Linked DNA regions of Homo sapiens: region 1 is linked to region 2. Evidence: fine-mapped QTL for protein levels in blood plasma. A gene starts in region 2. The other region holds a variant in brackets. All regions are shown on one strand. Distances are from middle to middle. Region 1 holds the start of SNORA54 (small nucleolar RNA, H/ACA box 54). Region 2 holds the start of NAP1L4 (nucleosome assembly protein 1 like 4).

Region 1 (14,520 bases), 22 kb before region 2:
GGCGTGGTGGTGCGTGCCTGTAGTCCCAGCTACTCGGGAGGCTGAGGCAGGAGAATCGCTTGAATCCAGGAGGCAGAGGTTGCAGTGAGCCGAGATCATATCACTGCACTCCAGCCTGGTGACACAGTGAGACTCGGTCTCAAAAAAAAAAAAAAAAAGAAAAAAGAAAAAAAAGGAAGAAAAGAAAAGGAGAAAAAAGAAAGGAAAAAAAAAGGAACTGACCCAAAAGGGAAAAAAAGTTAATTGCGTCTGGATGAATCACAGGTAAGAAAGAAGTACAAAGAAAAAACGCACAGAAACTTAAAGCACCGCACGCTCACACCATGGGGAAGAGAATGCACACCAACGAGGGCAAACTAGGCAGACGTGCCCAGGCGGCTCCTGGGGGCCCTGTGATAAAGTCTAAACAGAAGTGATGCAAGCCCAGGAAGAAGGACCTGCTATAACCCACATGGGGCAAGGAAGATGGGGTATCCCCTCTGGAGGGCAGCCCCCAGCTGGTGAGCAGGCATCACTCCCAGCTCCCAGGGCCCCACCTAGAGAGGGACACCTGAATGTCACCTTCCATAGTGGAAAACAGACAGGAAAAAGTAGAAGAGACAGATACAGGTACATCCACTGCCCACCCCTGCTGCTGCCCCAGGCATTACTTGCAGCACTTGCAGTGAAGAAATCCCACTCCTAGTGGCCCTCATCCATTAGCCCAGGCCCCAGTGCTGAGATGGGGAGGAAGGAAGATACTGGTGACTGGCCCCAGGCCCCTACCACCATCACCCACACCCAAGATCCCTAACCCACAGCCCGTCATGCAGCATTTGTCTCCAAGACCTGAAACTGAAAGCCACCAGTCAGTCAGTCATGTGTCGCTGGAAATGCTATTGCACCGGAATGGAACCCATTAGCTACAGCCAGGCTAACGGGTTACGAACAGTGCTCCCTGGGAGAACCAGGCTGGGATGAGACAGTCTGGCAAGGCCATTTGAAGATGAGCATATGGTTCCTCAGATAAAAGTAAGGGCTGACCTAGTCAAGCTTATCTTACCAACTGGTAGGCTGATCCATGCCACTAACATTACTAATGCAATGATATGCCATGGCAAGCATATTGTAAAGACGTGTTTCAGGACAAATCAAAGAGCAGGAAAACATTTTTCAGTCTTATTTGCGCTTTTTTTTTTAGGGTAAAACCTAGTAGGTTCAGATTTCTGAATAAGTGCTGATCATTATGTGTACATAGCTCCCATCTTTTTAAACGTTAAACATATACATTAGATGCATGCAAACTTCAGAGACACTTGGGAAAAGAATGGTATCATCTCCACCCAACAGAGTAAACAAACAAACTACAAGACCAAGGCCTGGCACAGTGGACAGCACCACTACAGCCCAGGAGTTGCAGCCTGACTCCTGCATTGGTGCCCACCTGGCTGCAGGGTCTGGGGCATCACATGGTCTGCATCACTGTCAAATCATCCAGCACAGACTCACGACTACAGTGCCAAGCATGACACAGAAAGGCAATGGGATCCCCATCGAACTCAGGGAGCAAACACACAATGCGGTACTCAGTCTAACTCTTGGAGAGCAGTCTCGCCCAGGGCTGCCCAGCAGATGAGTGGCTGGGTGTGGGTTTTGTGGGTTTCTTGCCCCTGGCTCCAAGTTCTTCCATCTTTGTGGACTGACCCTGTCTGATGCCAACCAGAAGGTCAAGTCAGTACTCACCATAGGCTGTCCAGGGTCAGAAAATTTCACTTTAATATCCTGCAGGTGTTTCAAGATTGGTTCATCATATTCCTAATCAAAAAGAGAAAAAAAATTCCAACAGGCTTTTAAAAAAACAACACATCTCTCCCGAAGAGTCATGGTTGCAGAGGCTCCCAGATGTTGCATAACTAGCCCTATTGGAATTCTGTCCTTGTCAAAGTAATAACTACCAGGAAGAAACCCAGACTTATTCACCAACTCCCTGTCATAGAGAAGCAGCACCAAGGTGTCCCCTTTCCCTAGTGTGGAGCAACGGTGGCTGCCACTGCCAGCAAAGGGCAGTGCCACTGACACCCGCCTGCCTGCAATACTGGGGCAAGGGCCTTCACTGCTTTCCTGCCACCAGCTGCCACTGCACACAGAGATCAGAAATGCTACCAACCAAGACTGTTGGTCCTCAGCCTCTCTGAGGAGAAAGAGCAGAAGCCTGGAAGTCAGAAGAGAAGGCTAGATCGGCTACGGCCTTGGCAGCCAGCTTCCCCACCTGTGGCAATAAAGTTGTGCATGGCTTAACAATGGGGGCACCTCCTGAGAAACACATTGTTAGGCAATTCGGCGTGTGTTCATCAGAGCATATTTACACAAACCTCGATAGTGCAGCCTACTATCCACTATTGCTCCTACGCTGCAAACCTGAACAGCATGGGACTGTACTGAATACTGGAAGCAGCTGGTGATGGTACTTATTTGTGTATCTAAACACAGAGAAGGTACAGTAAGAATATGGTATCATAATCTTACAGGACCGCCATCCTATATGCAGTCTGTTGTGACCAAAATGTGTTATGTGGCTCATGACTGTATCCAAAACTCACAATACACACAGTCACTTCTTTATTTTTTTTGAGACGGAGTCTGGCTCTGTTGCCCAGACTGGAGTGCAATGGTGTGATCTTGGTCACTGCAAGCTCCGCCTCCCGGATTCAGCCTCCCGAGCAGCTGGGACTACAGGCACCCGCCAACCATGCCCGGCTAATTTTTTGTATTTTTAGTAGAGACGGGGTTTCACCGTGTTAGCCAGGATGGTCTCGATCTCCTGACCTTGTGATCCACCCACCTCGGCCTCCCAAAGTGCTGGGATTACAGGCGTGAGCCACCGCGCCCGGCCACACACGGTTACTTCTTTAAGAACACTTACACAGAGCGTGTCTGAGATCCAACTTGCGGGCACCATGGAAGAGTGGGCATCATGGAAGAGCGTACAATTCTTATCTGTGTCTGTATCATTTTACAAGTGATATTTCTTTAAACTCATTTTGCCAATACCTGTCAGCTTAGAAAGTCCCAGTGAGGAAAGTCAGAAGAGGAGTGGGAAGACCTGAATCCTCAGAAACACGCACTGGCAGCAGGCACTTCATTTGTAACATGGCAGTCACTTCTTTACCCCCAAAGTCTGGGCACTGAATCTCAAAATGTCTTGAAGTTGCATTAAGTTTTTCTTAAATCATTTTTTCTCTTTTTTAGTTGTATGTAATAATTGTACTATTTATGGGACACAGTGACATTTTGATGCACGTACACAATGTGTAATAAATCAGGACCATCACCTCAAACATTTATTTTTGAACATTCAAAACCCGTCCTCTAGCTTTCTGAAAACACGCACTAAATTATCGTTAGCCACATTCACCCTACAGTGCTACAACACACCAGAACTTACTCCTCCAATCTAGCAGTCACTCTGTATCTGA[T/TAACAGACCTCTC]AACAGACCTCTCCCTATTTATCCTCCCCTCTCTCTCCCTCTTAGCCTTTATCAACAATTCTCTGCTTCGGTGAGCTGTTTTTGTAGCTCCCACATGAGTGTGAACGTGAGGTATTTCCCCCCTTTCTGTGCCTGATTTTCCGTTGAGTCCTAATTTTCAACTCTTCTGACATAAAACAAAACAAAAACAGCAACAAAAAGATACCTGCAAGTATCTAGACAAAAAGTAACCCAAAGGCAGTTGTGAAATGGGCCACACCTGCATGCGATGTTCAGTCTCCAATGCTGCGCGTGCCACCCACAGAAGCATGCGCTGGCTCTAGATCACCAAGATGAGCACTTCCACCAGCATGCTTTCCAGAGATGGCACTGGGACTTCAAACTCATCCCACTCAAAGACGCAGTGCCCACTCATGTTTTCCCAAACTTCATAAAATAACCATTATGTTCTAATTTCCTCAAGCAGCCATGTACCCTGTGGGTCAAAACTTTAAATGTCCAGGGCAAATATTAAGGTAATGCCCCACACTGGCAGACGCTCAGACTCAGGAAGCAAAGGCACAACACTGGAGGCATCGCACTCAGATCGTAAAGCCACCATCTCAAATTTTCCACTCTCCTTGCAGAAATATATTTCAACTATCCCCAAATTTAGAACAAAGGGACTCAGAGTTAATCCGCCTTTGGAATTTAATATTTGACCAAAATGAGCTGGGCATAGTGGCGCATATCTACAGTCCCAGCTACTCGAGAGGACCCCTTGAGGCCAGGAGACTGAGACAGCAGTGTCCTGACTGTGCCTATGAAAAGCCACTGACCTCTAGGCTGGGCATCATAGCAAGACCATGTCCCTTAAAAATGAAAGGGCTTCTCTCAGAAATGGCAGACTTCAAAACCAGACATTAAAAAACAACTGTTGGCCGGGCACGGTGGCTCACGCCTGTAATCCCAGCACTTTGGGAGGCCAAGGCAGGCGGATGATGAGGTCAGCAGATCGAGACCATCCTGGCTAACACAGTGAAACCCCGTCTCTACTAAAAATAAAAAAATTAGCCAGGCGTGGTGGCGGATGCCTGTAGTCCCAGCTACTCGGGAGGCTGAGGCAGGAGAATGGCGTGAACCCAGGAGGTGGAGCTTACAGTGAGCCAAGATCACGCCACTGCACTCCAGCCTGGGCGACAGAGCGAGACTCCGTTAAAAAAAAAAAAAAAAGAAAATATTGTTAAAAAAAAAAATCAAAATAGAATATGCTACCATTACCTGCTATGAGGTTACAAACAGTACAAATAACATTTCCTCATTCTCTGCATATTAAATGAGTACTCTATCAACCCCTGCATATCTTTTTAAAGCTGTTAAAACAAAAAGCAACAAAAGACACTTCATGGCTGAAATGCTGAAGCACTGACACTACTACAGAGGTGCTGGGAGAATGAGAAGGGACACCCCATTTAAAATGTGGCCAAATGCCTCACTGTGCTCTCAAAACCCAAGGCAGCACTATCCATGGCCAGTGACCCCAATGCCATAACCAGGTGGCCACACGCACAGAAGGGGACACCAAAACTCACTCAAGTCACCTAACTCTAGCTCCCAAACCCTGTTATCACTGCACCCCCAATCCCACGTGAAGATGCTCCAACCCTGCAGTGCAAGAATCACCCCAGGGCCCATGAGCCAGACAGCCCCACAGAACCAGAATCCGCACTGCCATGGCCACTCCCCATGCCCCCCGAAGTCTGAGAAGAACGAACTAAGAGCTAGTCTTTCCACCTGCTCCCTGCCATGGAGATTTTCAACTCTCAGGGTGCACATTAGAGTTCCTAAAACCAACTCAAAACTCTCAGTGCCATGGTGACAGATGAGGCATTTAGTTTTTGCTATTTAGTTTTCAAAGCTGCTCAGGTGATTGTAATACACAGGGTGAGACTACGGCTCTGGTAGACATTACTTAATTTTTCCAATGAAATTCTGGTGCATGGCATTCTTTTAAAAGTATGGTCTAGTCTTCTTAAATTCCACCTTTTCATATGAAAAGGAAGCTCAGATCAGGAAAAACCAAGGCTGTTCTATTTTAGATGCTTTCTGGTCTGGAAGGAGAATAAGAAATACATCATTCTTTCCATCTTTTCTCAAGTTTTGGCTTAGGACACAGGACAAGCATTAAACAAGGGAGGTAGCAGAGGCAGCAATGTGATACATTTGTGAAAACCATTAAAAACCGTAGCTGTAAAATCCTGTGCAAATTACAATGTAGCAGTTTGCAACGCACAGTGCCTATGCTCTGTGATGGGAGAAGCACTCTGCCCACACAAGCAGAGCCTGCAGCTGTCCTGAGCAAGTCTGAATGCAGACGTGCTGTTTCTGGGGACGCTGGAGCAATAAAAACTGACGGCAAGTCAGTCAGTGAGACTTAAGGCAAGATTTGTTTCTCTGTTCTAGAAACTTCTATTATAACTCATTTCAGGGAAAACCAAATTTGTTACCTTTTAATTTGTTCACCATTTCACTACAGAAAGTGAAATGTCAAGGCAAGACAAAATCAGAAATGGTGGTTGGGTTTTGTTGTTGTGTTGTTTTTTTTTTTTTTTTTTTTTGGAGACAGGGTCTCGTCACCCACCAGGATGGAGTGCAGCACCGTGATCACAGCTCACCACAGCCTCAACCTCCTCGGCTCAGGTGATCCTCCTGCCTCAGCCTCCCAAGTACCTGGGACCACAGGCGCACACCACAACGCCCAGCTAACTTTTCTATTTTTTGTAGAGATGGGATTTCGCGATGCTGCCCAGGCTGGTCTCAAACGATCTGCCTACCTTGACCTCCCAAAGTGCTGGGACTACAGACATGAGCCACCATGCCTGGCCTCTTTTTTTAAAAAAAATAGACACTTTTTCAAGAGAAATGATCAGAAAATATTAGCAACTTGTTCAAAAATTCACTGAGATGTGTGTGTACACACACACACACAAACAAACACACAGCTCATCCCTTCAAAATTCATTCTGCTCTGGTCTCCTGCCCTCACCCTTTCCTGCACACTCACACCACAGGAAGACAGAGATGGGCTCTGGAATCTATTCATAGGCTTTCCCACAGGCAAGACAACAGAGCTTTACAAGAGGTAAAAGGAACTGATTTGAAAGTTTTGGATCAGGCTGAAGCGCCCAGCTTTCCACCAAGAACTGCAAAAGACAGCATGGAAGCCCCACTGTGAATAAACCATTCACTGTGAGATCAGGACTGCTCATCTGAGGTCCTGGTCAGAGAAAGTGCCCTTCCGCCCACTATGAACAATCTTTCAATGCCCAGTGTAGTGCTTAAAAAATGCCATAGATAAGTAATGTTAGAAGACTAGCACATAATCTCTCTACAAGACAGAAGTGTGCTTACCTGGACTAATTCACTCAGCATGTCCACATTTCTGAAGATGGTAAACCAGAACTCTGGAATTCCTTTGGGATCTGGCTCTTCAGCCGTTGCCGCTGCTTTTTCTGTGACGACTACTTTACTTTTCATGTCTCCCTAAAAAAAAGATGCAACATAGGTAACGAAAATAAAAGTTTACAAACAATGCAGCGGCTTCACGTAGAATATCGTTGCCGAATCCTCTACTATCTCCCATCAAACACCTTGCTTTCTAAGTCTGCACCTCCAAACCACTCACTGGGCCACGCGACACTTTTCAGATGCTTCTGAGGAAAAAGCATTCAAGTCATTACATCCACACGGAATTCCGTACCATTTCACATCAAAGGCGAAGAAACTAAAGAGATGACAAAGTGCCACCGACGCTGGGAAAGGCCATCCAGTGCTAGCTCTGTGAGGTGCCATCCTGAGACAATCATCATCACAAATGCAGATGCAAAGACTGTACATCAACCTTAAGGAGATGCAATGCAAATATGCAGAACATCTAGCACTGGGCAAAAAAAGTCCAGTGCAAGGATAAAGAAGTTCACTTGGACTAATAATCTGACCTCTTGTTAAAATTTGTGGGGTGCTAAGTTGAAATAAAAAAAAAAAAAATTGCCGCAGCAGTATCTGCAGCAAGAAAGTGCTCAGCAACTTATCCAGCTTGTAAGGAAGTGGCTATAAATGCCAGCTCAGACACCACGCAAGCATCAGAAAGTGACCAGAAAGGCCACATGGCAAAAGGAAGGGGAGTCAGGCCCCAGGGAAAAGGTAGACCAAGGGAGGTGAAACGCAACACCAGATGCAACTATGGGAAATTCTGAATGCCTTGCCAAACGGGATTGTTATGATGAAATGATCTTGAAATGAAAGGCCTTTTAAATCAGCAAAGGCAGATTTCCCTTGAGCTGTTAGAAACTGATTCACAACTGTATTAATCCACAGCCATGGCTTCAATTAGGCCAGGTTCTATATATTTTTAAAGCATCAAAAACACATATGGCTACCAAAATCATCATATACCACCCCCCCCCCAAAAAAAAAACTGCAAAAAGTTAGTTATAGGATAAAAGTTACTTGTCTCCCAAACATAAAATCAGGCTGACAAAGTTAATCCATGGTACACTGGGAGTTTTCACAGCACTGGAATGGGACCAGTCACTAGAAAAAGGCTGTGAGCAGGTGACTGATGGCCACACCACAACCACCATCTGCAACCAATCCACTGGCGGAGCACCTCTCAGGGGGCAAGCTAGTCCATGCCACTGAGCAGGAAGGCACTCCCCTCACAACTCCCCCAATCTTCCAGTGACTGAGAACACAGGGGCATCTCTTCTTCATCTTTGCTTTCTCTGATGTTTTAATCTTTGTTGGTCTGATCCCTTATTTCAATATGCTCCTGTCCACAGATAACTGAGGTGGCACTACATCTTACTCCTATTAACTGACAGTACTGTGTCAGATGCTAGATCCATATCAGAAAGGAATCTAAACCCAACCTAATGATGCAGCAGCACCTACTGTTAGAAGCACATAAGTTTACTAGTCATTAAAAATCATTAAAAAATGCTTATTTTTAACAGTATTAAAACAGAACATGAGTCACATGTTTCTAAAGACTTACAGCCAATTTCTCTTCCTCTTCATTTTCACTGTGCCATTCCGATTCCGCATCTGTTGGTTCAACATCGCCGGTGATAAATTCTCTTCTCTACATAAAAATGAGACCTTATTAGAATTATGTTATTAGCTTACTTAGGAACTCAAGAGTTAAATTTATAAATAATGTCTACTAAAAGACTTTGAAAACTGGATATTTTTATAACTTATTTTAAGATTCTAAATTTTAGGGTTCAAAGAAAAATATTAAATGATTCCCTGGGTAAACCTGGATGTTTCACCTAAAGATGTAAAATAAAGACAGTCCCCGATTTCCAATGGTTCAGCTAAAGATTTTCAACTTCCTGATGGTGCAGAAGCCATCACACTTTGGGCACCAATACAGCCACACTGTGTTCCTCTCTCTGTGTAGGGTTCAATACATTACGCGAGATACTCAGCACTTTATTATAAAATAGGCTTTGTGGAAGATGATTTTGCCTGACTGCAGGCTAATGTTAGCGTTCTGAGCTTGTTTAAGGTAGTCTAGACTAAGCTATGTTTGGCAGGTTAGATGCGTTCTTACCCTAGATGTTGTCAACTTATAATGGGTTTATCGGAACCTAACACCTTCGTAAGCTGAAAACTATCTGTATATTAAATTAACAGAGCTCCCTACCTTGTCAAAGAGAGGCTGGTATAGCGCTGCATACTTTCTTTCCAAGTCATGTACCTCTTCATAGAACTTGGCTTCTATGTGAGCACATCTCACCTGAAGTTGTTTCAATGCATTAATTCTTCTTTTTACTGCTTTAGGTAAACTAAAAAAGGGAGTAAGAAATACAACATCCTCATGCCTGCAAAATAAAGCAGCATGCTTTTCAATTTTATTAAAATAAATTTAGGTTAACATGGAATCAACATCCTTACTATGAACAAGACCTCTTAAAAATTAAGAAAAGGACAATACCCCAACAGGAAAAAAAGGATACAGGAGGAAGCAGAAAAAATAATTCACAAAAGAAAAAACACAAATTGTCAAACATGAAGAAAGATTCAATTTCATAAAATATCCAAAAGAATGCAAACATTTAAGAACACTCAGCTTTTCCTTACCAAATTGGCAATTAAAAACCAAAACAAAACACCCAGGTTTTACGAGGCTAAGGGCCAAGAAGCCCTCTAACTGACTCATCTTTCTGAAGGGCAGAAATATTGAAAATGTTCTTTGGACCCAGTAATTCTATTTCTAAGAATTTATCCTTAAGGCTGGGCGCAGTGGCTCATGCCTGTAATCCCACCACTCTGGGAGGCCAAGGTAGGATTGCTTGAGGGCAGGACTCCAAGACCAGCCTGAGCAATACAGCAAGACCTCTCTCTACAAAAAAATTTTAAAAAATTAGCAAGGCATGATGGTGTGCGCCTGTAGTCCCAGCTACTCAGGAGGCTGAGGTGGGAGGATCACTTGAGTCTGTGAGGTCAAGGCAGCAGGGAGCTATGATTGCGCTACTGCACTCCAGCCTGGGAAACAGAGCAAGACCCTATCTTACCAAAAGGAAAAAAAAAAATTTATCCTAATCAAGTATTTATGCTGGAGTGTCCGTCGATAGATCTGTACAAGTGAAAAACTGGACAATGCAAGTGCAACAGCATTCAAATATGGCCTATTCATAATCACACTGTCCAGGAATATTTAGTGCCACGTGGGAATCCACACTTGTTAACACACTGGAGGAAAAAATCTGAGAAACACAGACCACAGGCAACACAACTTTGTCCTGGAGAGTCAGGTCAACTATGAGTTTGCCTTTCAATTCTGTTCTATGTTTTAAAAAATAGTTGTTATGTATAACTTTTATAAATCAGAAGAAAAATCCTTGTTTAACCCATCAAAACTATTTGTTCAAAACGAAGCCCCTGGTCACAATCATGTGGACTGAACAGCAGATTCCTGGCCTCATCATAGACCCAAATAATCTACCTGGGGCAGGGCCCTGGGTCCTGCATCTTGAATACTCATTCACACAATCAGAGTCTTCAAGTCTAAGCACTTGACTTACCCTCCAACAACAGACAGCACAGAGCAGTAGGCAAGTCACACACACATATCACTGGTCTGGGAGGTATTAGAACAACTGCCTTGCATCCCAAAGGACCACTCTCCTGGGTGAAATACAACCACAGCTACCTCAAGCTAAAGGTCCTTAGTTTAAGCAAAGACTCTCAAATAATGCTTAACATTCTAGAACTACTGCTAGTAGTAGATGAAAAAAAGGGAAAAGCAGAAAGAATTTAACAAAATGGTAGACTCCCACTGCCATTTTTACCCCTTTTCTGCACTGGTCATTCATTCATTCATTTATTGTGACAGGATCTCACTCTGTTGCCCAGGCTGCAGTGCACTGGTGCGATCTCGGCTCACTGTAGCCTCAACTTTCTGGGCTCAAATGATACTCCCACCTCAGCATCCTGAATAGTTGGACTACAGGGGCACATCACCATGCCCAGCTAATTTTTTTGCATCCTGTAGAGTAGGGGTTTGACCATGTTGCCCAGGCTGGTCTCGAACTCCTGAGCTCAAGCAATCTGCCTGCCTCGGCCTCCCAAAGTGCTAGGATTACAGGTGTGAGCTACCATGCCTGGCTAATTATACAATTTTAAATTAGTTTAATTTTTGAAGCTTTCCAACTGAAGTAAAATGACAAAGGATTTTTTTTTTTAATTATACTTTAAGTTTTAGGGTACAAATGCACAACGTGCAGGTTTGTTACATACGTATGCATGTGCCATGTTGGTGTGCTGCACCCATTAACTCGTCATTTAGACAAAGGATGTTAAACAAACTGGACCCTAGTGTGCCCCCAACAGTCCTTCAATCATTCACACCAACTACACCCAGCCCTCTGCCGGCACTTTTCCTGCAATATGGCTAATATGGAACCACTTCTAGTCCCACATAAACCTGATCCCACTCAAGCAGTTCCTCTCACAGAATGCCACCCCACCAACCCAGTTTCTAAAGCGAGAAAACTAGAAACCATTACTCATTCTCATTCTTGCCACTCCCACTCAGTATCACCCCATCCCATCAATCTAGTCTGCAAAAAAAATAACATCAAAACACCTTGCCCACTAAGTAATCTCTGAGAAGCTTCTAAATGGGCAAAGCAAACTCTGAATGTCACCTTCTAGGCCAGGCGCAGTGGCTCATGCCTATAATCCCAGCACTTTGGGAGGCCAAGGTGGGCAGATCACCTGAGGTCAGGAGCTGGAGATCAGCCTGGCCAACATGGCAAATCCCTGTCTCTACTAAAAATACAAAAACAAAACAAAACAAAACAAACAAAAAAACACGTGCAGCAAATCACCATGGCACATGTATACCTATGTAACAAACCTGAACACTCAGCACATCTACTCCAGAACGTACAGTGAAATAAATAAAACTACAAAAAACTAGCTGGGAGTGGTGGCGTGCACCTGCAATTCCAGCTACTCAGGAGGCTGAGGCAGGAGAATCACTTGAACCCGGGAGGCGGAAGTTGCACTCCAGCCTGGATGACAGAGCAAGAGTCTGTCTCAAAAAATAAAAATAAAAAATAAATGTCCCCTTCTTGTCGTAATAGCCCTGGCAGTCCTGACTGGGGAAACCAGCTGGAAGGTGGGGCCTCCTGGGAGACCAAGCCCTGACCCAATTATAGATGGAAGCCCAGTAACAGCTCATCCCTTTAAAAAAAAAAAAAAAAATTGCCATGCATGGTGGTGCATGCCTATAGTTCCAACTACTCTGGAGGCTGAGGTAGAAGGATTACTTGAGCTCAGGAGTTCAAGGTTACAATGAACTATTACATGCCACTGCACTCCAGCCTGAACAACAGTGAGACTCCAACTCAAAAACCAAAAATTCCTTCCAGAAGTAAGAGAGGTCCTGACAAGAGCCATCCTAGGATTCTAGGATCACCACCCTTATCATTTTCATAGTGCAATACATCTAGCACATAGGCCTCTCTTAAGAAAGCAAAGGTGTCAGCCAGGCACGGTAGCTCACCCGTTATCCCAGCATTTTGAGAGGCTGAGGCGGGAGAACCAATTGAGGCCATGAGTTCAAAACCAGCCTAGGAAATACAGTGAGACCCCATCTTTTTTTTTTTCTTAAAGACAGTCTCACTGTCACCCAGGCTGGAGGGTAGTGAAAACTCATAGGCATGCGGCACTATGCCCAGTTTTTTTTTTTTAAGGTGTTGGTGTCACAGGCTCATGTGGGTAAGTCAGGAAGGAGTGGTTCTCTTAGTTTAACTTAGGAGCCACCAGCTGTCCTCTCCAACTCAGATGATCTGTGAAGTCCTCTAGCCCTCCACAGGATGGCACTGTGCACTTCCTATCAGAACTGACAGGTCACGCTACTCCATCCACCAGGCAAACTCTCAGCCTAGGCACCGGGTAGGGTCACTCCTCTCATATCCCAGTGCCTGTCTCTCATAGACAATGTCTTGGAACGAAAAAAACATTTAATCCTGTTCTGGGGAACTGAAAAGTGGTTTTTCCTTTATTTTCCTTTTGTTTCTCCAAATTGCATGAGACCCTATTCACAGCACACTTACGTTTCGATGTAGCTGGAAGGGGTGTGAGGGACATTGTCAAGTCGCTCCTGTAAAGCTGCCAGAACTCGAGGATTCTGCATCACCTGATCTGTGAGCTTTTCTATGAAGAGTTAAGACCAAACATATTTAAAATATGCCCACCACACACAATAGCCAAGAGTCAAAAATTAGTAACATATCTACTTAGCTTTGCCTAGATTTACATCTACTAATTTCTAAATACATACACCAGTGACTTCTTAAACATGTTTTGAAAATAATTAAAATTTATTTTAAGAGCATTTAACACTCTGGGTTAATCACCTGATGGGTAGTTACAAATTTACTGAATAAACACCTAGAGAGTCCTGGCTCTCACCAGGACTGTGGCTGTTTAAGCACCAGACTTAAACAACTGAGGACATCATTAATGTAAGTTCACATGGTCTACCCCCAAGTCCCATGGTGGTGTCCAGAAGCCACGAACAGAGATGAGATCAGTTCCTCAAAGTAAAAGAGCATCCACTAGCTCCCTTGCTCACTGTGGTGCCATAGACTTCACAGTCCAGGAGAGCCCAAGGCTCACTAGCTCTCTGCCAGCACTGTTCCCTAAGTTTTCTTTGCATGTGCTACTCGCCTCTGCCTTGAATGTCCTTCTGCCCAAACCCACCTCCCTCCAGGAAGCACTTCTGACCATTCCACCCCACTTAGGGCTAACCTACATGTGTAGTGAGCTCACAATACCAAGCTGTTTGTATTTATAAGCCCATTTCCCAATAAACCAATGAATGAGATCCTGACAAGGTAGTGACTGTCCTTTTACCCAGTTGTGACTATGAAGTGGCAGACATCTGGCTCATGACACAGACTCTTAACAATCTCCCTCTTAATGACACAATACAGAAATCCAAACCCAGCGCCCTTCCCTTGCTTAGAGCCAGTACATACCCGAGTATTCTCCCATCCCGAGTATTCTCCCATCCCGAGTATTCTCCCATGATGTGGGTAAGTCAAACACACCAAGCAGGCACTCAATTTTAAACATTCATAATAGAACTGCAAACACAACCACTAACATGAAGCACATGAAGTGTATTTAAGGTACGTAATTTGTATATATAAAACTGTGTACACATGTGTAGTATATAAATACTACATGCATATACAAACACATATGAATGGGTGCTAAAACCTCCGTGTGAAAGTTTGCTGAAGAGGAAGAGGATATCTACACGTGCCTGACAGATTGCTTCCAAGGTGAAAGGACCTTGGTAACAGAGAAGTCTGGCAGGCACTGTCTTAATCATCAATCTCAGTGTCCTTGGGCAGGTGCCGAGCCAACACCCTGTGCCTCCGGAACCAACGACCACTGCATCATGTTACCTGTGTGCCCTTCTTGCCAAAATGTTTACCCTGAATCTCATCAGGAAGAAACGACTGGGCAAATCCAGACTGTGAGCATTCTATAAGACAAC
Region 2 (16,496 bases):
CCCGCCTGGGAGACAGAGTGAGACTGTCTCAAAACAAAAAGAAAAAAAAAAAAAATGAGGCTGGACACAGTGGTTGATGCCTCTGGTCCCAGCTACTTGAGTGGCTGAGACAGAAGCAACACTCAAGCCCAGGAGTTGGAGGCCTGGCGGCTGCAGTGAGCTATCACTGCGCCACTGAACTCCAGCCTGGACAACAGAGCAAGACCCTGCCTCAAAAAAAAAAAAAAAAAAAAAAAGGCAACAAACCCTACAATGGCTGGCTATGCTCACCACCACGACCACAGCAGCAACCCAAACCCAGCCCTAGTCAGTGAAGATTTAAAAACCCTTTAACAAAGGCCAGGTGTGGTGGCTCCCACCTGTAATCCCAGTACTTTGGGAGGCCGAGGCGAGCGGATCATCTGAGGTCAGGAGTTCGAGACCAGCCTGACCAACACGGAGAAACCCGTCTCTACTAAGAATACAAAATTAGCCGGGCATGGTGGCGCATGCCTGTAATCTCAGCTACTCAGGAGGCTGAGGCAGGAGAATCTCTTGAACCCAGGAGGCGGAAGTTGCAGTGAGCCGAGATCTCGCCATTGCACTCCAGCCTGGGCAACAAGAGCGAAACTCTGTCTCAAAAAACAAACAAACAAAAAACTAACAAACACACTTCAATGGTCCCCCGTCACCTTCTGCAGAATACACATTCCTACCAATTCAGGCCCTGTCTACTTCCCCATACTCATTCCCACTCATGCTCTTCTGCATAACCTTCCTCTGGACCTCAGTTTCATCATCCACAAACTAGAAGACAGTGGCTACCTGAGAAACTGTTAATGGAGACAAATTTCCTAGTACATAACAGCAGGCCAGGTCTCTTTTCACTTTTGTAACTGCCATGCATATAGACTACATCTATTCCTTGATATGAAACCAACAAATCAAGTTACTTTAAACACTGCACCCTTTATACAGGTTGAGTATCTCTTATCTGAAATGCTTGGGACCAGAAGTGTTTCAGATTTTAGAATATTTGTATAAACATGATCAGGTATCTTGGGGATGGGACCCAAATCTAAACATGAAATTCATTCACGTTTCCCACACATCTTATTCACATAGACTGAAGGTAATTTTATACAATATTTTAAATAATTTTGTGCATGAAACAAAGTTTTAACTGTGATCCATCACGTGAAGTCAGGTGTGAAATTTTCCACTTGTAACATTAATGTCAACACTAACGGAGTTTCAGAATTTGGAGCATTTGGATTTTTGATTTTGGGATCAGGAGTGCTCAACCTGAATAAGGAAAGACAATGTAGAGAGGTGGTATTATAAACAAGCTAGAGTTCAGTCAAGTTTCAGCACCACAAATTATTTTTGTTTATCAATCCCTATCACCCTTAAAACAGAAAGTTATAAGGAACTATCAAATATACAGGTTTGAGGAAAATAAATATCTGTTTGTTTTAAATGTTATGTTCAGTTTAATACTAGTCTTATAAAACCACAGCCCGAAGACTCATCCAGAAGGTTCTCTCACTTTTAAAAGGCAATCAAGGGATCTATACAACCTGGTGACTATAGTTAACAACAATGTATCACATAATTGAAAAATTGCTGAGAGTAGATGTTAAGTGTTCTTGTCAGAATCAGTATACCACCTAATGTGAATTAACTTGACTTAGCCATTCCACAATGTATAGTACTTCAAAACATCGCATTATACATCATAAATATAATTTTGTGTTAATAAATAATAACTAAAAATAAATAAAAGACAATCAAGTTAAATTATGAAAGGGATACCAGGCAAAAGAATGTTGTAAGTTTTCTAAAGTTCAGGTTCCCTCCCAAGGTCAAAAACTTTAACTGTGTCTACAATTCTAAATCTGAACTGGCAAGCAAATTTTCACCCAGTTAATTGGGTCGAGGAAAAATAAAATAAAATAATTCCCATGATTACACAAATGTTCTTTTATTTATATTAGTCACTGTAACAATCCTATTTATGGATTAATTTCTTTGTACCCCAAACAACTGTTTTCTTATGAAATTTTTAAAGATTTTTGTAACAAAATATAACCTTAAATTCCTAATTTTGAACTGAAAACATCTACTCCATAGCTAGAGTAACTATAAAATTGGGCCATGGCCAGGCACGGTGGCTCACGCCTGTAATCCCAGCACTTTGGGAGACCAAGGCGGGCGGATCACATGAGGTCGGGAGTTCGAGGTCAGCCTGGCCAACGTGGTGAAATTCCATCTCCATTAAAAATACAAAAATCAGCTGGGCATGGTGGCACACGCCTGAGGTCCCAGCTACTCAGGAGGCTGAGGCAGGAGAACTGCTTGAACCTGGGGGGCGGAGGTTGTAGTGAGCCAAGATTGCCCCACTAGACTCCAGTCTGGGCGACAGAGCCAGACCCTGTCTCAAAAAAAAAAAAAAGAAAAAGAAAGGAAAAAAAAATTGGGCCACGTTTGAGAGACAAAGCTAGAGAGTGTAGTCGTACTCCCCAAAACTTTTATATATTTACTCTGTCTTAATAAACTCAAAGGTCCTCAATGTCTTTATGGGAGATAACTGAAGGATTAAAATTAATTCAAATGTAATTAATGTTTTCACAAGACTCCTTATAATTTCCTTACAAATCCTATATATCCTACAAAATTAGGGATGGTAGTAAATTTTTTTTTTTTTTTTTGAGATAGAGTTTCGCACTTGTTGCCCAGGCTGGCGTGCAGTGGCGCGATCTCGGCTCACTGCAACCTCCACCTCCCAGTTTCTCCTGCCTCAGCCTCCCAAGTAGCTGGAGTTACAGGTGCCCACCACCATGCCCAGCTAATTTTTTTTTTTTTTTGTATTTTTAGTAGAGACAGGGTTTCACCATGTTGGCCAGACTTGGTCTCGAACTCCCAACCTCAGGTGATCCACCTGCCTCAACCTCCCAAAGTGCTGGGATTACAGGTATGAGCCACCGCACTCTAAGATAAATTTCTAAAGCACAATTGCTTGGCCCACATTCAGTCTGAGGAATGGCAATCCAACATTCTCAATCCAAGAGAGTCTGACCAGCCATTGGGCACAAGTTCAAATCCTCCAGGAGTACTGGATGTTTTAGATTAGGACATCAGAAAGGACAAAGAAATGATCTGTTCTCAGAAGGAATCAAGATACCCCTGTAGGACACCCCAACATCCCCACCCACAAAAGCTGGTGATTATACGAAGCCCTGAGACAGTCCAGATTTCATTTCTATTGCCCAGGCCAGTAGACTCCTGATCCAGTCTATCATTACCACTCTCCAGGATCAGAAGTTAATCATGTTGTTAAACTTTCCATGATAATGTTCTGGGTTTTTTGTTGTTGTTGTTGTTTTTTGAGGTGGAGTCTCGCTCTGTCACCCAAGGCGGGAGAGGGTCTCAAACTCCTGACCCTCAGGTGATCTGCCCACCTCAGCTTCCCCCAAAGTGCTGTGATTACAGGCGTGAGCCACCATGCCAGGCCCATGATAATGTTTAAAAGCAATGAATAGGCTGGGCACGGTGGCTCACGCCTGTAATCCCAGCACTTTGAGAGGCCCAGGTGGGCAGACCACCTGAGGTCAGGAGTTCGAGACCAGCCTGACCAATATGGTGAAACCCGTCTCTACTAAAAAGATACAAAAATTACCCAGGCGTGGTGGTGAGCACCTGTAATCCCAGCTACTTGGGAGGCTGAGACAGGAGAATTGCTTGAACCTGGGAGGCAGAGGCTGCAGTGAGCCGAGATCGCGCCACTGCACTCCAGCCTGGGCATCAGAGCGAGACTCCACCTCAAAAAAAAAAAAAAAAAAAAAGCAATGAATAATACATGTTTGCCCACTAAAGAACAAGTTCCACGAGGGCAGGGACCCTGTCTACTTGCTCAATACAGAAGTCCCAAGGCCCAGCAACAGACTCGGGATGAGACTGGTTGCCAAGAAATCTTTGCTTAACTCACTGCTACCAAATGACAACTTGTCTCTGTGTTACCAGTACCCAGCACGCATGGTGCCCGGGACTGCATGCACACATCTCAAGCAGTTTCTGAAGACACAGAGGAGAAACACTGCCTTAGTCATTCATGTTTGGTTACAAGATCTACTGAAATACCTGCCTCCAAACAGCAGCAGACTGTCTCTTCAGAGACTTCTGCGGTGCCAAGCCCTGGGGTTTCAAGAAGAAAGCAAAAAATGATTTCCTTTCCTTAACCAAAACACTACATTTTACTTGGGGCGCAGCAGTCTTTACTGCTGCACTCCCATCTCCTCCACCCTTCTTTTCTGGGCAGTTCATTAGCATACGACTCAATGAGGCTAACTTCTTAATCCAGTACATATTAAAAGATCTTGTCATCTTGTCAATAAGGCACTTCCCTCTCTACCTATTTCATATTGCAACCACCAAAGTCCCTACTCCTCTGCACTGTTTTTCAAAAGCACCTGCCACCATTGAACTTGTTCGTCTGTCTCCCATAGCAGAAACAAGGACAAAGACTTCTGTTTTATTCTGCGGGAGGCCCCAGTACCTAGAACTGTGCCCAGTACATAGAAGATGCTCATGAATAAGTAAACAGATGCAAATCACTGAAAGCTACTTTTCGGTAACTGAGTAAACAAGTACTATTTTAATTATTATACTTAAAACCTTTGCACATAAAAGTGCACAGTCATTCTTTCTACCACAAATTAAACAGAAATTATCTCATCTTGTTTTTGAACAGGCTTTTCCAGATAATGCACAGCGCATTTTTAAAAGTCCCAAGGACATGAAATGAACATACATTTCGTTTTTAACAGTTAACAGGGGATACTTGTAAGAAACTTAAGGTTACACAGGAAGTGGTCAAAATCAAAAAGTAAAGATCACAAAGTGATCTTTCGTTGTTTTCATACTATAAAAACACAATGCCTCTGTTACTAAATGCAAAATGTAAAGCTCTGGCAAACAAAGTAAAGCAACCCTGTTCTCTCTTAAGAGGGCAGGGTGGAAAACCAATGACTGCCAGATGAAAACTAATTTATATCACCACAAACTATTTCTTAAAAATTTCATTAGCAGCCAAATACAAAATTATTTACTATCTACCTACTGATAAGGGTTTTCCATTACTATATGCTCAAAGACAAACCTTACAACTATAGTTTCGGGAGGCATAAATTTGCTTACCTCAGGAGGTCCCACAAAAATTCAGCTGAGGCCAGGTAACAGCAGTTTCCTGCAGAGATCAGCTACTTCCTATCACCATAGTGGTCGAAGAATCAAACGAAGTAATATCAGATTTCTACTCTGGAAGCCTAAAACACTTTTCCCTTTAAGCAAAAAAGCAAGCATTCCTTAGCTAGCAATCTCAGGCCAAACTCCCAACAAGCTCATCTCTGCTGTCTTATTCAAATATAAACCATCATGGTTTCAAGCAGTAACAGCACTCGCCTATTTCACACAGCTGACGCCTCTTAGGCCGTCAGGAATTTAAATCACCTTCTTGCCCACAAAGTATTTTTCTTCCAAAACAAACTGAAAAATATAGGCTCTTTGGCAACATTTTTGGAAGTACAACATAAACTTATCACAATAATTTTTAAACTGCAGACAACTAAAGGGAAGGAAGAAAAGCACTACTATATATACATACATATTTGAGGTCACCTCCTCCTGATGCTAGAGACTATCAACTGCTCAAAAGAAGGAAAACAAAATAAAGATTTCAGTCCCCACACTTAGCTGCGAATAGCTAACAAAGGGAATTAACATGCGGTCAATAACAAGAGGCTACTAAAAACTCTGACAGGTTAGGAAGTTTTCATTTCAGTTTCAAATTCAAATTCATACTGTAAAGTGGTGATGAACACATCCCATCCGCAGGTACTTAACCTCCATACAAATAAGAACTACCTCTCATATGGGCAAAAAGATCAAAATTCTACAGAAGAATCTGATGGCTAAATGGCTAATTTGCAAAACACAATGCCCTGTACATTTTGAGGACATCCTAAAACATGTGTAAACTTTTCAGAATTCAGTTTACCAAAGTTATCAAACTTAAAAATGATTAAAATTTATTTGCTACTGCAAAGAATTCAACCAATTTCTCCAATGACTACTCCATATTCATTTTGAAAAACAGTACCGGATTTAAAGCTTACACAACAAAATTCACAAAAGTGTTATATGTGCCTATATGACATATAGGCACAAATAACTGCAGACATTCTGAAGCTAACACTGCTCAACCAGGAAAAAAAAAAGACTGCAATTGGATATGTAATAACAGCTATTTAAGACGGCAGTAACGTGTTAAAATGGTTCATAAAAATCACATCATAAGGCCCTGAAATTCTAGTAAAAATATCTCTAAGTAAACTTGTGAACTACTACTAAATAACTAATTTTCTCTCTCTCTGTAGTCACTCATTTTATCTTTGGATTACTTTCCCATTCTATCACCACGTTGCTTTCTCTGAACTTCATTTTACATTTGCATATTATTTATTCCATTAGCAATTGCTCATCCCAGTCTGAATCTCAAAATTCTACTATAGGAGGCATTTGGCATTCTGTGGAATAAGAGAATTTTGAGATGGAAATGATCAACCAGCTCAAAACCTCGTAAGCTAGAGTTCAGTTAAGCTTAGCACAATGATGAAAACAATTTCTCATTAAAACTTCTTTCATTCCCTCTACAGAAGCAGTAACCCTGGGTACAGTTAAAACTGCCTGGGTCTTTAAGCTTTGTCACCTCGGACAAGTCATTATACCTAACCTCCCAGGGCCTCAGCTTCCAGAGTAGTTAAATGGAAAAACAATAGCATCTATCTCAGGTTATTAGATTATGAAATGAGTTAACACACGCAAACAGGCTGAAAGAGTCCCTGGTGCGCAGTGCAGGTATTAGTCATTTAGAGGTATAGTTACTATTACAGGAAGGTAGTAACTTAGAAAGACTTACCTTTAAGGTCCAACAACCTAATCTACATATTTGTATATTTCTAAGGTAAGAGAATTTTTAAAAGTCTATTTTCACCCCGTAAACCTAATGCAGGAGGATAAGGCACGGGTTACTACAGGAAAAAGTAATGCAGACTGGGGGATGCGAACCAAAGCACAGACGAATGTGCCCCGACGATTCCTCCGAGAACATAATGAAATGGCGGACCTTCCTGCCAGAGGAGCGCACAGTCACCCAGGCAGGTGATGTGACACACACGTTAGGGTCTAAAGGTCCCAAGGCTGGAGTCCCCTTTACTGGACCCTAAACATGTCTGCCTCCTGCCCCGCAATCAGACTTAGAGAACTGTGGACGGTGGAAAGTCTTATCATGACCAGGCCATCCTTCGCTGGGGTGAACGGAAAGCATTCAGAAGGGGAAAATTGAAAACAACAAAGACTCTGGTCAGGTCAAAAAATACAAATGTGACCTCTTCCACCATCTCTGAACTGAAAGAAAAGCATGGCACTTTCCCATCCATAACATGTACAATTTTTTTTTTTGGAGATTTTGCTTTTCCCTTGTGAAAGACGGTTTTAAATAGTAAACAGACTTGCTGCCCACCTTGGCTGGGAAACCAAGTCCCGTGAGTAACTAGTCTAAGGCCACTCAGGCCAGTCCTCGGGGAGCGCACGCCGCCCAGCTCGCTCCCACCGCACAGCTCCCAACAGCTAAGAAGCAACGCCAAGGACTTTCTTCCCCGTCAGACATGCCCTCGGCCACACCAAACTGACATCAAAACCCCAGTTAGCCCAGCCTGACCCCACAGAGGCTCACGATGACAACCGCCCTACGGAAAAACTCAAATTCCTAAACATCTAATAAAGAAGTCCTGGACGTCTCCACCTTAAAAACGGGAAGCCTGAACGCTCCGGCGCGCCCGGCCGTGTAACCGCCACAGCCCCCGCACGCGGGGCGGGCTGGGCTAGCGGGAGATTTGAGCGGCCGCCGCCTCTCGCCGTCTTCGCCTCCTCCAAGGGGCCGCCGCCCAGGAGGCCGCCCGCGGCGCAGAACAAAGCGCCTTGACCTTCAGTGAGGCGGGCAGCCGGGCGAGGCGCGCCGGGAGTTGGGAGGGGCCTCCCGCCAGCGCCCCAGGCCCGGGCTCCAGGCCCCAAGCCCCAGGCCCCGCCGCGGCCGCCGCTGCCTGCCCCGACCAGAACGCGGCCCCGCCCCTGCCCCACCGCCCCGAGGCTTCCAGAGATGGCCGCCGCCGCGCCCGCGCCGGACCCGCGGCCCCACCCGCCCGTCCGGGCCCGGCCGCCCTCCCCAGCGCGCCGTTACCGGCCCAGCACCCGTGTCTCCGCACCTCACGCCTCCTGCGGCAGTGGCGGCGACCCTAGCTTCGCTCGCTTTGGGGCTGCGCCGCCGTGGCCTCCAACAACGCCGGCTCCCATTGGCCGAGGCTCCTAGCTCCTCTCTCCGCGAGCAAGACAGGCTGCGATTCGCCGAGCGCGGCGCAAGTCAACTGCGCTTCGCGCCGCAGTCAGCAACCAATCACAAGCCTCCGAAGAAACGCCGCGCCATATGCAAATATTCCTCCGCGCGGCGCGCGCCCTGCGTTCCTCCGCCTCTTTAAATGGGGCGGGGCAAGGTGGAGACCGCGTGTGTGGTTCCGGGGGGTCCCGGGTCCCCGCTCCCGGGACCTTCCCCGGGTGGCACCACATCCTCGCGGGACACTGGGCACCACCCCTCTCCGTGGGCCCCGGCCCCAGCCGTCTTTATCTCCTGCGCCCTCCCAGTTCCCTAGTTCAATCCCGTCCGCGGCGGGTCGGTGCCTCCAGCACTCCGTGCGCCCGCTGATGTGAGAACCCCACCTCCCATGTCGTCCCCTCGCGCTACTCCTTGAGAACATCGCGGAGGGCCCCTCCGCCTGGGAGCCGTTTTCAACCAGCCCCGTTAGTGGTTGGGACGTAAGCCTAACCCCCGCTCATCCCCCAGGTCCCAGGTTGGAGAACACTTCCTCTGCGAAGAGGTCGGGGCTGGGTCACCTCCGCGGACAGGACGGGACTAGCCACTGCCTGCATCTCTTCCCCCACGCCCTGAGCCCCGCAGTGTCCCAGCAGCCTAGTTCTGGCCTGCGGGAGACCCTGTCGGACAAGGAGGAAAAGCAGTGCGCACTGGGCCCTCAGATCAGCCCCCTGAAGCAGAGCAGGGCAGAGGGCTGGGGAGGAGCTGGCCTGTTTCGCCCGCCCTGTTCTCCCTCTCATGGTGCCCTCTGGGCTGGGGTGAAGGTACCAGCCCCAGCCTGTGCACATCACATTTTGTAGAAAGGCATCCAATTTGATTGGAAAATAACCCCTACGCTGGGACTTTTGAGGCTGGTTCATTTCCATGTTCAACCGTGCCATTGGGGGTCTTCAAGTCTAATGTGCATTTTTTTCAGAAACGTTCTCTTTTGGGATGACGTTACTTTTGAAACAATTGCTAATTATTATTATTATTAGCAAGTTATTCCTGTAATGGGGAAAATTTGAAACCATTTAAAGGCTCCTGGTTGAGGGATTAAGAACATAGCGTCGGTTATAAACCTCAGAGGTAAGCTGGGAGGCTGAGGCAGGAGGATTCCTTGAGCCCAGAAATTCAAGTCCAGCCTGGGCAACATAGTGAAACCTCATCTCTAAAAAGAAATTAATGCGGAGCGCCGTGGCTCAGGCCTGTAAACCCAGCACTCTGGGAGGCAGAGGCAACAAGTCCAGCCTGGGCAACATAGAGCACCCTTCCCCTGCTCCAAAAACAACAACAACAAAAAATTACCCAGGCGTGGTGGCTCAGGCCTGTAATACCAGCTACTTGGGAGGCTGAGGTGGGAGAATTACCTGAGCCCGTGAGGTCAAGGCTGCAGTGAGCAGAGATTGGGCCACTGCACTCCAGCCTGGGTAACCAGAGGGGGACATTGTCTCAAAAAGACAAAAAAAAGGCCGGGCGCGGTGGCTCAAGCCTGTAATCCCAGCACTTTGGGAGGCCGAGGTGGGCCGATCACGATGTCAGGAGATCGAGACCATCCTGGCTAACACGGTGAAACCCCGTCTCTACTAAAAATACAAAAAAATTAGCCGTGCATTGTGGCGGACGCCCTAGTCCCAGCTACTCGGGAGGCTGAGGCAGGAGAATGGCGTGAACCCGGGAGGCGGAGCTTACAGTGTGAGCCGAGATCGCACCACTGCACTCCAGCCTGGGCGACAGAGCGAGACTCCATCTCAAAAAATAAAAAATAAAAAAAAAACTAATTAAAACAAAAAACATAAAAACCCCTCAGAGGTGACCGGTGCATGGCTGAGGCCTGACCCACACAGCGTGCTCAGTCCTGTCTGGCCATCTGTGTTTTAGGAGAGGGTGTGTGTGCTCTCAATTCCTATTTTACTTATTTAGACTTTCAGACTTTTCTACAAAGGTCATGCTTTATGCTTTGCGGAAGCATAAACAATGATAGAAATGACACAAGAACCTGGGCATTTGAAGTTTGGAGGGTCCTTCCTCCCATCTAATAAAGTCTCAAGACCATTTGCAGTAATGGGATCCCCCTGCTCCTGGATGTTGGGGTTGGTGGGGGTGGCATCCGGGTGGGTGGATCCTCTGAGGGAGCTGGGCCTTGGGGCTGGGGGCAGCTGGACCTGCTCCCTGGGAGATCTGCTGGAACTGGAATGATTGTGGTGGTGGTGTTTTTCTCTTGGTGGTTGGTGGTTTCTCTCCTTGGAAGATTCTCATTTGGAAATAGAGTCTTCACAGATGCAATTAGGTAATGAGGTCGAGTGGGCAGATTGCTTGAGCCCAAGAGTTCGAGACCAGCCTGGGCAACATGATGAGATCCCATCTCTACCAAATATCTAAAAATTAGCTAGGCATGGTGGTGCATCTATAGTCCCAGCTGCTTGAGAGGCTGAGGTGGGAGGATCACTTGTGCCTGGGATTTAGAGGCTGCAGTGAGCTGTGATCATGCCACTGCACTCCAGCCTGGGTGACAGAGCAAGACCAAGACCCTGTGTCAAAACAAAGAAGTCCCCAGATGACACTGACATGCAGCCAGAGCTGAGGGCCACTGGGATCAGGACTCCCAGGGTAGCTGGCGCTTGGTGAGTTTCATTCCTGTTTTCCCAGCGCTGCCTCTGCCAGGCCTCAGGCATGAGCCCACCTGTCTACAACCCCTCTGCTGCCTCAGCCTCCTCCAACCTGGAGATCAAGAGTCCCCTCCAGAGGCTACCTTGCCTGTAGTTCTGCTCTTGGCTGCCTTGTCCTCACTGAGGCTCCGGGAGACAGTCCCGGACAGACACCACGTGTTTCTTCTTCACATTGCCAGCACCCGGAAAAGTGCCTGGCACTTGGCGAGCTGTGCCCTTACCTGGGCGCTACTGACAATGGCTACACCTTGGCCTGGAAGTAGAGGCAGCAATCACTGCCCCATTCAACAGAGGAGAAAACAGAGAAACCCCTCTAACGCCCCCAGCTAAGTGGCTCTGGCCCTGGAGGGGGCGGCCATGCCCTTCACCTGTGGTGGGGGCGCTACTCCTCAAAAGACCTCGCAGCCGCCAAGAGCTGGAGCCGAGGCCTCAGAAATGCCCAAAGCCCCCTCAGTAGGCTGGGGGCTCAGCCTGTGGGGCATTAACAAAGTGGGGCCCTGGAGACATCCAAGAGAGGTGGCTGGTTTCTCCTGGTATATGGAGAACAGAAAACACCCATGGCGTACTCCACACAAGAGGGGTGCGCAGACAGGGAGTGCCTTTGCAAGCTTCCCGGCCTCAGAAAGAAGGCATCTGGAAGACTGTACCCCAAATGTTGTAGGGATTTGAGAGGTAGGGCACGGGGTCTTTCAGTTTCTACTTTATATTGGAAGTTTTCCGTATTATTTATTTTTAAATAATGAATACATGACGTTTTTATAGTAAAGACACCAAAGATTGCTCTTTGGGGAAAAACAGGAAGATGTAAATCTGGCTCTTACAGCTGAACAGAGCTTTCATGTACAGAAAAGAAACACTTTCCACAGGCAAACTAATATTATACAAGAAAAGTGTCCACCCCACGTTGTTCCAGAAGGATCTGCTGCAGCCTGACAGCAAGAGATTGCAGGGTAGGGAGGTGCTGGGGTCCTCTTGGGGGCCAAGCCAATGGCCTGGGCCCAGCCAGCCTATTGTCACTGCAGGCCCTCGGACCCAGCCTGGGGAGACTGGAGGAAGTCAGGGAAGGGCAGAGAGAAGGCGCACCGGGCAGTGGGCCCTCAGAACGGGGAAACTCCAGGCAGAAAAGCGGCCCAGAATCACTCTGAATTGGGGGGCGTGAAACAGGGGCCACAGCCTGGCCCTACTGCAGTCCAGGTGGAGCCAGGCCTTCACCAGCTGTGGGGACCAGGCGTGCCCCTGGCAATCTGGATACGTTTTTGTGCAGCCACCACTGGAAATGGGGCACACGCCACTCCTTCTTGCCTCCTTGGATGGCACCGCGGCTTTGGGCCAACCTCCGCTCACCCCAGTGGTGGCAGCTAAAGACAAGGGTATTTCCTCATGGCCCAGTTGTCAGGATATTTGATACATGGTTTCCAGCACAGGCCAGTAAAGAGGATACACTGTGGAAGGGATTGCTGCTGCTGCAGTGCCGGCTGCACTTCATCAGTTTCCTTGGCTAAAGGATACTGAGTTACAGGTTTCAGGCTACTTTGTATCTCATTAAAGACACCTCTCCATGCAGCCGCCATTATCACACTAACAAAATTAGCAAAAATCTTGACTGTCATCCAATACCTGGTCATTCAAATTTCTTGAAATTTTTTTTTTTTTTTTTTTTTTGAGACGGAGTTTCGCTCTTGTTGCCCAGGCTGGAGTGCAATGGCGAGATCTCGGCTCACCGCAACCTCCACCTCCCGGGTTCGAGCGATTCTCCCGCCTCAGCCTCCGGAGTAGCTGGCATGTGCCACCATGCCCAACTAATTTTTTTGTATTTTTAGTAGAGACAGGGTTTCTCCATGTTGGTCAAGCTAGTCTTGAACTCTCCACCTCAGGTGATCCGCCTGCCTCAGCCTCCCAAAGTGCTGGGATTACAGGCATGAGCCACTGTGCCCGACCCCCTTTGAAATGTCTTTACAGCAGGTTTGTTCAAATCCTTCAAAGATTATCCCTCAAACCTGGTGGTTTTGTTTCTCGAGTCTCTCCCAGTCCTTCTCTTCTGCCCTATTCTGCTCCCTTTGACGCAGACGTATTGAAGATGCCAGCCGGGCATCTGGCAGAATGCCCCACCTTCTGCACAAATGTGGTGGCTGCTTCATGGCCTCACCTGCATTCTCCCTCTGTTCCCAGTATTTCCTGCAGACAGGAAGTGAGCTGGACAGCCTTGCTCCTGAGGGGGCTGTAGCCCGGCAGCACAGGCCACAGCTGGGAGACTGCAGGAATGCAGAATCTTGGGCTCCTCCTAGACCTGAACTGAAATTTGTGTTAACAAGCAACCCTGGGCAGTTTATACGCACATTCAAGGTTAAGGAGCCCTAGCCTAAAAGCTGCATTCAATACTGACTTATACTTTTAGAGGAAATCCTTCTTTTTGTTGGGGGGCTGACAGCCAGGGCCCAACATCAGAAAGTAACACGTATCCCCTCCTGGAAACCTACAAGTTACTCACAAGGTGACACTTTGGCATCAAATTATCCAGCACCTACCAGCTTTCATCCAGGGGTCTCAGCATCCGCGGTCAGCCCCTGCCTGAATCAATGACTTCATTCGGGGTTGCAGAATGGAGATGTCTGATCCTGGTGCTTCTTCCCTTAGCTGGCATCTTTGGGGGAAAGAACAACTTTCCCCTTTCAGCTAGGGCCATTTGGTGGCCCTGAAATATACTTCCCATGCAAGGTAAAATACTTGCTTCTGTCACTAATGAGTAACTCTACAGAAAGGAGCTGACACAGGCCACCTCCAGTAACGACAATATGTTTTAGCTTTCTCTAGTTTTGAGAATAAATACAGATGCCTGGAGTTTTTTTTTTGTTTGTTTGTTTTTGTTTTTTGTTTTGAGACAGAGTCTTGCTCTGCCATCCAGACTGGAGTGCAGTGGTATGATCGCAGCTCACTTGCAGCCTCCACCTCCCATGCTCAGGCAATCCTCCAACCTCAGCCTCCTGAGTAGCTGGGATCACAAGTGCGCCACTACACCGGCTAATTTTTTTGACTTTTAGTAGAGACAGGGTCTCGCTATGTTGCCCTGGCTGGAATCATTCTTTTCAATGCTCAAATTGTCCCAAACTTAGCCAGTAGGAGCTCCTGAAGCCTTAAAGTAATTATAGGTTTCCAGAAAACTGCACAGTTTGTTTCCTGATGGTCACACCTTGCCTGGCCAGAGTTCAAGATCAACACAGGAGACTGACATTGGTACAATGTGTGTGACTCTACGTTGTGCTATCACATATGCAGATTTGTGTGATCACCATGGAAACAAGAACACAGAAGTGCCCTCCCCACCAACCCCACCTCCTACTGTCCCTGTGCAGTCACTCCCCTCCACCTGCCCCCGCCCCCCCACCATCTTTAACCCCAGCTACCACCATCTGTTCTCTATTCCTACTTGAGAATGTTATCTACGTGGAATCACATGGCATGCAACCTTTCAGGGGTGGCTTTTCCAAACCCAGCAGAATGCCCCTGACACATACCACCCAGCTGCTATGTGTCACTACCTTGTCCAGTGTCCTCCTGACCTGACTTCTTGGTGTTCGAAAGCTCCCCTTTTGGGGCACAAGAGTGCCTGGGCTCAGCTACTCCTGCTGCTGCAGACCTGGAACTGGCCATTTCTCCAGGGGGTGGGATGGGGTTTAGAGCCCCAGATCGGGGCTGGGGCTGCTCAGTGCCACCAGGGCTGCCTTGCTTCTCCACCCTTCCCATCTACACAGTCAGGAAACAATCTACTTTTTAAAATCACAAGTTACTTCATATTGTTTTTTCTAATTCGTATTTAATAGTAAAGTGATTTTCCTTGACTTCTTTGATATTTTATCGTCTTACATTAAAAACTTGATTGCTAGGCTGGGCGCAGTGGCTCACACCTGTAATCCCAGCACTTTGGGAGGCTGAGGCGGGCGGATCACTTGAGGTCAGGAGTTCAAGACCAGCCTGGCCAATATGGTGAAACCCCATCTCTACTAAAAATACAAAAATTAGCTGGGCATGGTGGCGCGTGTCTGTGATCCCAACTACTTGGGAGGCTGAGGCAGAAGAATAGCTTGAACCCGGGAGGCGGAGGTTGCAGTGAGCTAAGATTGCTTCCCTGCACTCCAGCCTGGGTGTCAGTGATCTTATTTGTGTTGGCATACAGGGTTTGAAAATTATAATGCCAATGTTATTACTAACAACAAAACTATTGAATTGACTTTTCTGTACTTTCTTTGACCTTAGAAGATACCCCATTAAAGATGTGTAGCAAAAAATGGCCAATTCTCAGAAAGTTGAAGTTCTTTTCTTGAGGTTGCCAATTTGATTTATGTTTTTGTGCCAGATGGTACTTTCTGAAATAGCTGCAGTAGTATTTCCCATCCCTTCTGGAACCCAGTAATGCCCACCACAGGGTAGTGTCTATGCCTCCCCCTCCGCACGAACGTGGGTGGGCCTTGTGACGGCCTCCGCTAGGGAGGACGGTGGAAGTCAGGACATGACCTCCGAGGTTAGATCCTAAAAGGCCATATAGCTCCTGTCTCTCTCTCTCTCAGGACTCGCACCTTTGGAGCTATAGGCTGTTGCAACAGAAATCAGCCACCGTGAAGCCGCCAAGCTGGAGAGATCACACACAGGTCTCACAGAGGTAAAAGGTGCCCAAGCAGCCCTAGTGTGGGACCCAGGCACAAACTTAGAGATGACCCCATCTGCCTGCAACTGAAAACCAATCAACTGAGCCCAGTCAATCCAGAGCCATGAGTTATTAACATGATCATTGTTGTTTTCAGCCATGAAGTTTTGGGGTGATTTGTTAAGTGGCAACAGATAACTGGAACATGTTTGTTTTACTTTGTTTGGGGGACTTTTCTTTCTTGCTGGTTTAAATTTTTTTATATATAAAATACTGACAAGGTTCAAAGTCAGGCCTATCAATACCCAGAGACTGTCCTCATTGATTTATAACCTTAGTGCTCCCTGCATAATTGGGTGGGTGCTCTCAAGCTGTGCCAAGCACCCTGCTGATGCACAGACAGGCTGGTTCCAGCCTTTTGCTGTGTCACACACTACTGCAGTAAACAGCATGCGCATGCGGAGGGCAAGGACAAAGAATTGGCGCACCCACAACCCAACACTGCCACACTCCCCATGCTGAGGCTGCTGCCACCATCCACATGCACTGGATGGAGTGTCCCCCCCTGGATGTCCACAGCACCAATGACTGTCTTTTGTCCCGATGGATATGGCCTGGCACCAGCTTCCGCAGGCATGAAGCAGGCTGTGGTTTCTGCTTACGCCCTCCTCAGCCAAGGATGGGTAAGCACCTTCGCGTCTGGGTGGTGATTCTTAGTCCAGGTGAACCAGGTGTGGAGGCAGGGTGG

The links. A credible set is the group of variants that fine-mapping cannot tell apart. PIP is the chance, under the fine-mapping model, that this variant and not a neighbour inherited with it causes the effect. The UK Biobank Pharma Proteomics Project read protein levels with antibody pairs (Olink). The fine-mapping took linkage between variants from a reference panel, not from the people measured, so its PIPs are less certain.
Region 1: its variant is the best candidate, but not a certain one, in a credible set for the plasma level of the NAP1L4 protein (UK Biobank, PIP 0.62).

Annotation. Positions count from the first base shown.
Region 1 is chr11:2,962,958-2,977,477 of GRCh38, forward strand. It overlaps NAP1L4 (nucleosome assembly protein 1 like 4), which reads right to left. Exons shown (of 16, transcript NM_005969.4): 4 at 13,067-13,166; 5 at 9,145-9,286; 6 at 8,491-8,577; 7 at 6,846-6,977; 8 at 1,723-1,794. SNORA54 (small nucleolar RNA, H/ACA box 54) reads right to left here and starts at 936; the gene lies at 814-936. RefSeq lists an enhancer at 2,162-2,661 and a silencer at 3,369-3,569. The variant T/TAACAGACCTCTC (reference allele first, on the strand shown) is at 3,456.
Region 2 is chr11:2,983,954-3,000,449 of GRCh38, forward strand. It overlaps NAP1L4 (nucleosome assembly protein 1 like 4), which reads right to left and starts at 8,376. Exons shown (of 16, transcript NM_005969.4): 1 at 8,301-8,376. RefSeq lists enhancers at 6,945-7,801, 8,346-8,640.